Regions from separate parts of the Homo sapiens genome. Here all the other regions are reported to be linked to region 1. Evidence: microRNA targets listed by miRTarBase, many of them from high-throughput screens and not tested one by one. Region 1 holds a microRNA gene; each other region holds the end of a gene's coding sequence.

Region 1 (3,152 bases):
AGTCCCAGCTACTCGGGAGGCTGAGGCAGGAGAATGGCGTGAACCCAGGAGGTGGAGCTTGCAGTGAGCCGAGATTGTGCCACTGAACTCCAGCCTGGGCGACAGAGCGAGACTCTGTCTCAAAAAAACAAGCAGGCCAGGTAAAGTGGCTCACGCCTATAATCCCAGCACTTAGGAGGCCGAGGTGGGTAGACAGCTTGAGCCCAGGAGTTCAAGACCAGCATGGGCAACATAGTGAGACTCTATCTCTAAAAATAAGAATAACTTTTAAAATAATAAAAATACATTAATTGGCCGGGCACGGTGGCTCACACCTGTATTCCCAGCATTTTGGGAGGCCAAGGCGGGTGGATCACGAGGTCAGGAGATCGCGACCATCCTGGCTAACATGGTGAAACCCCTTCTCTACTAAAAATACAAAAAAATTAGTTGGGCATGGTGGTGCGCACCTGTAGTCCCAGCTACTCAGGAGGCTGAGGCAGGAGAATGGCATGAACCTGAGAGGCAGAGCTTGCAGTGAGCCGAGATCAGGCCACTGCACTCCAGCCTGGGCTACAGAGCAAGACTCCGTCAAAAAAAAAAAAATACCACATTAATTATGGTGCTGGTTTTAGCATATGTCCACAAATTCTTTGAAACCCCTCCCTGTAGGAGGCAGGGCCTAATCTCCCTCCCCTGAGTGACTCACTTCTAATGAATAGACGGTAAGCTTGTCCAACCCGTGGCCCAGGACAGCTTTGAATGTGGCCCAACACAAATTCATAAACTTTCTTAAAACATTATGATATTTATGCACAGACCTTTTTTTTTTTTTTTCTTTTGAGACAGAGTTTCCCTCTGTCACCCAGGCTGGAGTGCAGTGGTGCAATCTCGGCTTACTGCAAACTCCTCCTCCTGGATTCACACCATTCTCCTGCCTCAGCCTCCTGAGTAGCTGGGACTACAGGCGCCCACCACCACGCCCGGCTAATTTTTTCTATTTTTAGTAGAGATGGGGTTTCACTGTGTTAGCCAGGATGGTCTCGATCTCCTGACCTCGTGACCCACCCGCCTCGGCCTCCCAAAGTGTTGGGATTACAGGTGTGAGCCACCGCACCCGGTCCTTTTTTTTTTTTTTTTTTTTTTTTTTTTTTTTAGCTCAACAGCTGTCATAGTGTTAATGATGTATTTTATGTGTTGCCCAAGACAATTCTTCTTCCAATGTGTCCCAGGGCAGCCAAAAGATTGGACACCCCTGGAACAGAGTATGGAAAGGGAAATTAGCAGCTTACGGTGGGTAACTCTGGTAGACAACGCCTTAACCAAGTGATCAAGGTTAACTTCACCAGTGAGCAATCAGGTAGATATCATGTGCCCCCTAATATTATGTGATGAGAAGGCCATTTCACCTCTGGGGTATTCTTTCCCCAAACCCCAACTGCAGTCTAATGATCAGAAAACATCAGACAAATCCAGATTGAGGGACATCCTACAAAATACTTGACCAGCCCACTTCATAAATGTCAAAGTCATAAAAAAACAAGGAGAGACAGAGAAATTGACATAGATTGAAAGTGACTATTATGATATAATAATTAAGTGCAACATTATATCCTGATTAAATCCTGGAACAGAAAAAGGACATTAGTGGAAAAAACTGGTGAAATCTGAAGAAAGTCGGGAGTTTAGTTAATACAACTGTGCCCATGTTAATTTTTGAGTTTTGATAAATGTATCATAATTAGTACGATATTAACATTGGGGGAAGGTGGATGAAGACTACGGGGGGTTCTCTGGATTTGCAACTCTTCTGTAAATCTAAAGTTAACTTTAGGGGGTATATGATGTCAACCTGATTTAGCTAAAGTTAACTTTAGATTTACAGAATAATTGCAAATCCAGAGAGAGGGAAGATTTAGGTTGGTGCAAAAGTAATTGTGGTTTTTGCCATTGAAAGTAATGGCAAAAACCACAGTTTCTTTTGCACCAACCTAATAAAATAAAAAGTTTAAAAGGAAAAAAATCTCTCAAATGAAGACGTAGGTCCACACAAGGACTTGTATGTGAATGTTCATTGCAACTTTACTCAAAATCATCCAAAACTGGAAGTAACCCAAATGTCCATCAACTGGTAAATGAATAAACAGACTGTGGTATATCCATTCAGGGGAATGCTACTATGCAATAAAAAGGAACAAACTATTGATACATCCAATAATATGGATGAATTTCTTTTTTTTTTTTTTTTACATTTTTTTTTTTTACATTTTTTTTTTAATTTATTTTTTTATTGATAATTCTTGGGTGTTTCTCACAGAGGGGGATTTGGCAGGGTCATGGGACAATAGTGGAGGGAAGGTCAGCAGATAAACAAGTGAACAAAGGTCTCTGGTTTTCCTAGGCAGAGGACCCTGCGGCCTTCCGCAGTGTTTGTGTCCCTGATTACTTGAGATTAGGGATTGGTGATGACTCTTAACGAGCATGCTGCCTTCAAGCATCTGTTTAACAAAGCACATCTTGCACCGCCCTTAATCCATTTAACCCTGAGTGGACACAGCACATGTTTCAGAGAGCACAGGGTTGGGGGTAAGGTCACAGATCAACAGGATCCCAAGGCAGAGGAATTTTTCTTAGTGCAGAACAAAATGAAAAGTCTCCCATGTCTACTTCTTTCTACACAGACACGGCAACCATCCGATTTCTCAATCTTTTCCCCACCTTTCCCGCCTTTCTATTCCACAAAGCCGCCATTGTCATCCTGGCCTGTTCTCAATGAGCTGTTGGGTACACCTCCCAGACGGGGTGGTGGCCGGGCAGAGGGGCTCCTCACTTCCCAGTAGGGGCGGCCGGGCAGAGGTGCCCCTCACCTCCCGGACGGGGCGGCTGGCCGGGCAGGGGGGCTGACCCCCCCCACCTCCCTCCCGGACGGGGAATATGGATGAATTTCAAAAACATTGTGTTGAGCAAAAGAAGTGAGACACAAGAGACTACATCTGTATGACTGCATCTATAGGAAACTTTAAGAAAGGCAAGACTTTAGTGCAAAAGCAGATCAGTGCTTGTTAGGAACAGGAGTGGGGAATGTGGGGGGTAGAGAGAAGTAATTGACAGCTAAAAGTCACAAGGGAAGTTCTAGGGGTGATGAAATGTTCTGTATCTTGATGGGGCAGTGG
Region 2 (3,000 bases), not on the chromosome of region 1:
TGCACACATCTTCATGTCCAAACCGTGAACTACCTTTCTGAATGACTTTTCCTGTCCCTAGAGCCACAGCATTAGGAGAGATGGACAGAGGGATTGGTCCAGTAGCACTTCAAGTAATTCCCACCTCACAAGGCAGCACACTCTCACTTTTTTCAGTTTCTCTGTTGGCACTTTTATTAGTGGTCAATTTAGTGTTTTTTGCATATTAAAATTTTATTGAGATTCAGTAGATTTTTCTATTCTCAGATCCTTTTAATGGATATACTTAATAGTTACTATAGATTATTGTTATTTTTTAATCACGTGTTTTATTTAAATACAGTGGCTCTCACTTTTATTACTAAGTGTCTTTGCTTATATATCATTCTGTTTTATTAAATGCTTTTACTCACTAACTGTCTGAATGCTTTTCCTTATCCAGGCTATTCTTGGGGCAGGACATTATGTATATGCAGATCAACCAGAAGAATTCAACCAGAAAGTAAAGGAGATCTGCGACACTGTGGACTGAACACACTGAAGCTCTGATGGGAAAACCTGGTGACTGATATAGTTGTTCAGCAATAATTCATAGTCTGTGATGAAGAGTAGTGAATACAACACACAACCAGGCAGCCTTCTTGACTATACTTTGCACATGTTTTCTTTAGGAATTCACTCACACATTTAAACCAGTTAGTGCCTTCTAGAAGAATGGCTTTCCTTTCTCCTACACAAAATTGAAATATACAAGTCTCTAAATATAATACCTTTAAATAAAAGGTTATTTGTCCCTCTGATGTACTGAAAAACTGTAATTTTTCAGCTGAAAATTTTTTAATCTAACTTTGCTAGTTATTTTTATATTGCAATCTATATTACCAATTTAGGAAGTGATTTCTGAGTCTCTTACACTGTAAAGGTGCACTTTATTTTCTTTGTCTTCCCCATCATGTATTTATTGTGTCTTGATAACTGATATTAATCTAAATTCAATGTGTTTTTATGTAAAAATTTGTCAGTTGTTTAGAATATTTCACTTTGTTTTTGAAACGGAGTGACAAGGCAGATTTTTGGTTAGAGGACGGGAGTTGATCACTATCATTACTTTTTCTAGTTTACCTGTTTTTTATATTTAAGGCTGCTAAGCCATGTTCAGCATTTTAAATGTGGTCTATCCTGACATACAGTGTATAACAACATAACTCCTTGGAACCTCCTATGTGTGGTATAATTCTACTCTTCCAAGGAACATGACTTCAATACTTTCAGTGATTCAGGTACTGAAAAGCCTTACCTAAAAGGCTGTTCTTTGTTTCCCCCTTTCATACTATTCTTTTCCATGACCCAGGATGCAGCAAATGAAACAGATTTCTTCTCTTAAGGGGATATTAAGACTGTTACTTCCTAGTAAGCCAAGTAATACCATATTTTTATTAACATCTAACTTTTGTAGATGGGTGCTAAAATTGCATACATTTTAACCACTAAAATAGAAAAACAAGTGGTGCTATTATGTCTCATGGCACCAGAAATGAGCTAGCACTTGGGTTTGTTGTTGCTGTTGTTTATTAAGAGTATTGTGTTAATTAAATCATTACATACTTGAAGTTATATTACAAAAATTCTAGAAGGTTGATTGAACTATTTTTTTAGGAACTACCATCAAGTGTAGCATTTTCTTGCAGTTTTAAAATGAGGAAAACTTCTTTGAAACTGTGAAATGCTCCATGTGGTAACTGGCTGCTGAGAAAACCCTTCACCAAAAAAATAAATAAAAATTGAATAGGATTGTCATCAAGAAGGCATCTTTCGCTAACGTTGCTTGTCTAGGAGAAAGGTAGCTATGTAAATAAAAACAGTGAACTAGAGCAAATAGTGGTTTAATGGTTTTGTTATTGCATTTTTAAAATGGTTAATTAGGGAATTTGTAGTTGTTAGGAAATGTAAGGTTGTGTCACTGTTGATTAACTGCCAGAAAGACTGAATGTTCTATTTTCAACATTTCTCCCCTATAAAAGAATAGACAAATTATACTGAAGCATGATATAAACATCTTCCCAATGAACAATTTGTCTCACTTGTCAGATTAACTAGGTTAGTGCAGGAAGCAACATGAGCGCCAAGATGTGTTGTCTGATTTCTCTACCTTAAGAACAATAATAGTCTTTTTAGTTAGTATTTTGGATGGCCAGGTTTCAAACCTGTATGTGGTACAAATAATTTGGGTAATATTTTTGTATTTTTGTTTTACACACTCTCTAATCTCAATTATCCTTTGCTGGGAGAATGACAGGTTTCACTTATACAGGAAGGTTTTTGCACAGGAAATTTGGTCCCAGCCCTTGGAAGGAAGAAGTTCCTTCGTTTACTTAGTGAATGGAGTTTCTGGCCGCAGATGTGCCAAGTGATTGAAGAAAGATATACCCCAATATCAAGTGATAATTTATTTTCCTACAGACTGAATTTGCTTTATTTGAAAGATGTTGTAACTCTTTTTAAAGTTAGATTTTACCCTGAGGTATAGTATATGTAATTTTGTGAAGATTGAGCTGGAAGGGAAGTTCACAATCCTCACATTTAAAAAAATATAGTGGGTGCTAAATGTTTTCTTAAAAATCTAGTACAGCATTTGATCTTTGTTATGCACAGCATACTTTTATTTTACAGAATAAATTTTCCTGTGATAGTCACAACAAGACAGCTGTATAGTTTCTTGAGTCTTTTGTATGGACCAGTCTCTGTATAATAGTTAACTACAGGACTGTGGATCCAGCAAATGTTCAGTAAATGCTGCTGTTGTTCTTAGGGAAGGCTACTCTGGGTGTTGTGGCCGCCATACATGGCTTTACCTGGGTCCATGCATTCCCTTAAGATGACTTCTGTTTTCTTCTTTTTTCTTCTGATTTTCCAAAAAAAAAAAAGCCTTGCCTAAGGTTGGTTTTAGAATATGATTTGCAGAACACTTTTGAAATGTCTTCATTCATATATGTAATATATATTTATACTTAAAGGGCCATA
Region 3 (3,000 bases), not on the chromosome of region 1:
AACTACCTTCCCCACTGACCCTCTAGGCTTTAGCAGAAGACAGGATTGTACAGCGGGTGGCAAAGAGCAGCCGGGCGCTGCAAGGCGGGTGGCTCAGATCGAGCTGTCGCCTATGCCCTGGCTGGGGTCCGATCCCTGTGTAACTTGCCTTCTCCCTTGTCTTCTAGACGTGGTCTCCCATCCCTCGGATGCCAGCTCCTATAGGAGGGGGAGAAAGAAGCGCGTGCCTTATACCAAGGTGCAATTAAAAGAACTTGAACGGGAATACGCCACGAATAAATTCATTACTAAGGACAAACGGAGGCGGATATCAGCCACGACGAATCTCTCTGAGCGGCAGGTCACAATCTGGTTCCAGAACAGGAGGGTTAAAGAGAAAAAAGTCATCAACAAACTGAAAACCACTAGTTAATGGATTAAAAATAGAGCAAGAAGGCAACTTGAAGAAACGCTTCAGAACTCGTTGCTTTGCCCAGATAATGATAATAATGCTTAATAATAATTGAAGAATGGGAAAGAGAAAGAGACAGAGACTGGCATTTTCCTCTCCCGAAGGAGATCTCTTTCTCTTTAATGGAATCTACAACTGTTTTAAAACTTTAAGAAAGGTAAAGACTGCCAGTTCTTCCGCCAACCCCATCAGCCCAGCCCGTTAAATGTCAAACGTCAACCCCCAAAATACGCAATTTCAGATAAGTTACGCAGTTACTGAAATCTTGTAAGTATTTAAGTGATCGTTACATTTTAGGACACTGCGTTAGATGGTAATAATCTGGAAGTTGGTTACAAACGCAAGAGGCCATTGTAAACATCTGCTTGTCCTTCTTAGGTCGCCATTCCCTTTGCATGTTAAGCGTCTGCTCAGGTAAATCTTAGTGAAATTCCTACCGTTGTTGTACGTTCTGCAAAACATTTTATGTATAGATTTAGAGGGGAAACGAGAAGGTACTGAAATAATGATCTTGGAATATTTGCTGTGAAGGGAGAAAGGGAGAGAAAACTCTTCTGAGGATCATTTGTCTTGGTAGTATAGTAAAACCAACCAGCTGAACCTTTCAGGCTACAAGAGAACCCGGGTCGGTAATGTCTTTTTAAGAATAATTTTTAATTGCTTATAACAAGCATATTTTGTGGCATTTGAACTATATTTACTGCTCCAATATCCGTTATTTTCCAAAGGATTTTGTATCTTTTTGAAAATGTTTACATCATCAGATGATCCACAGAATTCACTTTATGTGAGATCTCCCGAGAGTTTCCATCCCAACATGATGGACTTTGGTTTGAACACAATTCGTTTTTTCATTTGAATTGGCATTTCCCAATATTTGCTAAACATTTGCTGGAGAAATCATTTTTCTTTTTTCTTTTTTAGAAAACTCAGAATGAAAATTCATTCCCCTGAAATATTTAGGTGTCTATATTCTATATTTTGATCTATTAAGGGATTAGTATTTTTCCATGTTTATTGTGTTATCAGAGTGCATTAGAAAGATTAGTGATTCATCTTCACAGCACATTTTTAATCAAGCAGTTATTTCAACCAGCACATTCGTTTTGTTCATATTCACTATAGAATGATATCTTGTAAATAAAGACATTCAGCACACTGTGAAAATGTATTTGTGCACCTGCTTTTTAAATATTTCTACTAAAAATGAAAAAAAAAAACCCTTAGACCTGTAGATAGTGATATCGTAATATTAATTGTTAATAAAATAGTCACTGCCATTAAAATCTGCAGAAAATACTCTTTACTTTCCTATGCTAAATGTGCACTGCACAGAAAGAAAAGGAGCAGGTTTATCTTATATAAACCAAGGACCATTCTTTATTATTATTCAGTACTTCTTTTGCTACCAAATTTTTAAGAAAAGGGAGAAATCCCTCATAACTAAAATCCTAAAAAATGATAAGTGCTTCAAGGAGATTAAAGTGTCAGGTATTACAAAAGGGAGAGAAAAGAAAGGAGGAAGAGATAGTATGAATTCCCAGGCTCCCTGTGGAAAATGAAAACCAGTTGTTTTGTAGCAGCAATGCCTAGGCTGTCGTATTTTAAAATCTGCTGTTGGGTCTGCATGTGTCTGAGAGGGCAGGTTTTGATATTTGTTGAAATGACAGGACTACGAAAGGCCTTAAACCTTGACCTTGACGAAAAAAAAGACAATTTGTGACCTTGACTTTTGACAGCTCATGAATTGGCCTTAGCTGGATTAGTAGATCAAGGGCGCCACCTCGCGTTGACAAGCCTCCTTGTAATTCTTCAACCAAGGGAATCAAGAGCTCTTACCTCCTTGACTTTAGAGATTCAGTACTCAATTATTTGGCTCCAGCTGGAGCAAATTTGAATATATGTAAATTATACATGTCCCTGTATATATGTAAATATATATAATATGTGTACACATGTATACATTTGCATATTAGTGCTTGTGTGTGCTTGTATATATATTTGTAGAATCTGTACAGATATCATATCATTAATTGCTAATGACGCAAGATATTGTAATTTAAGGTGATTTCTAGAATTGAGGTACAAAATGTACTTTACAAGATGAAGCCTTGTTCCTTTTCTCTAATGGCCAAATTTGATTTGTCTTCACAGTGGCTTGCTCTGCATCAGATTTCTGCAGATCTGCTTTAAAGCTGTACATTTTTGTTACAGTCTAAGATGTGTTCTTAAATCACCATTCCTTCCTGGTCCTCACCCTCCAGGGTGGTCTCACACTGTAATTAGAGCTATTGAGGAGTCTTTACAGCAAATTAAGATTCAGATGCCTTGCTAAGTCTAGAGTTCTAGAGTTATGTTTCAGAAAGTCTAAGAAACCCACCTCTTGAGAGGTCAGTAAAGAGGACTTAATATTTCATATCTACAAAATGACCACAGGATTGGATACAGAACGAGAGTTATCCTGGATAACTCAGAGCTGAGTACTGCTCCAGGGTGGTGTGCAATCTTATATTGATGCTTGTGAATCTGCCATTTGATTTGTAGGATAA

What was found. Region 1 holds the annotated microRNA hsa-miR-548d-5p (AAAAGUAAUUGUGGUUUUUGCC, at 1,907-1,928, shown strand). A microRNA usually pairs through its seed, bases 2 to 8, with sites in the 3' UTR of a target mRNA and lowers its output. Matches are read on the target gene's strand: a 7mer-m8 pairs with bases 2 to 8, a 7mer-A1 pairs with bases 2 to 7 and ends in A, and an 8mer does both.
Region 2: the mRNA of ABHD5 is a reported target of hsa-miR-548d-5p. Seed matches in the 3' UTR shown: 7mer-m8 at 1,084-1,090.
Region 3: the mRNA of HOXA13 is a reported target of hsa-miR-548d-5p. Seed matches in the 3' UTR shown: 7mer-m8 at 1,755-1,761 and 7mer-A1 at 2,544-2,550.

Annotation. Positions count from the first base shown.
Region 1 is chr17:67,470,316-67,473,467 of GRCh38, reverse strand. It overlaps MIR548D2 (microRNA 548d-2), which reads left to right and starts at 1,883; the gene lies at 1,883-1,979. The region is part of intron 1 of PITPNC1 (phosphatidylinositol transfer protein cytoplasmic 1); the gene reads right to left. MIR548AA2 (microRNA 548aa-2) reads right to left here and starts at 1,979; the gene lies at 1,883-1,979.
Region 2 is chr3:43,718,022-43,721,021 of GRCh38, forward strand. ABHD5 (abhydrolase domain containing 5, lysophosphatidic acid acyltransferase) reads left to right here. Exons shown (of 7, transcript NM_016006.6): 7 at 422-3,000. The coding sequence ends at 511. Among named protein-coding and RNA genes, the nearest start is that of ABHD5, 29 kb to the left of the region's middle.
Region 3 is chr7:27,195,610-27,198,609 of GRCh38, reverse strand. HOXA13 (homeobox A13) reads left to right here. Exons shown (of 2, transcript NM_000522.5): 2 at 168-3,000. The coding sequence ends at 412. Among named protein-coding and RNA genes, the nearest start is that of HOXA13, 3.0 kb to the left of the region's middle.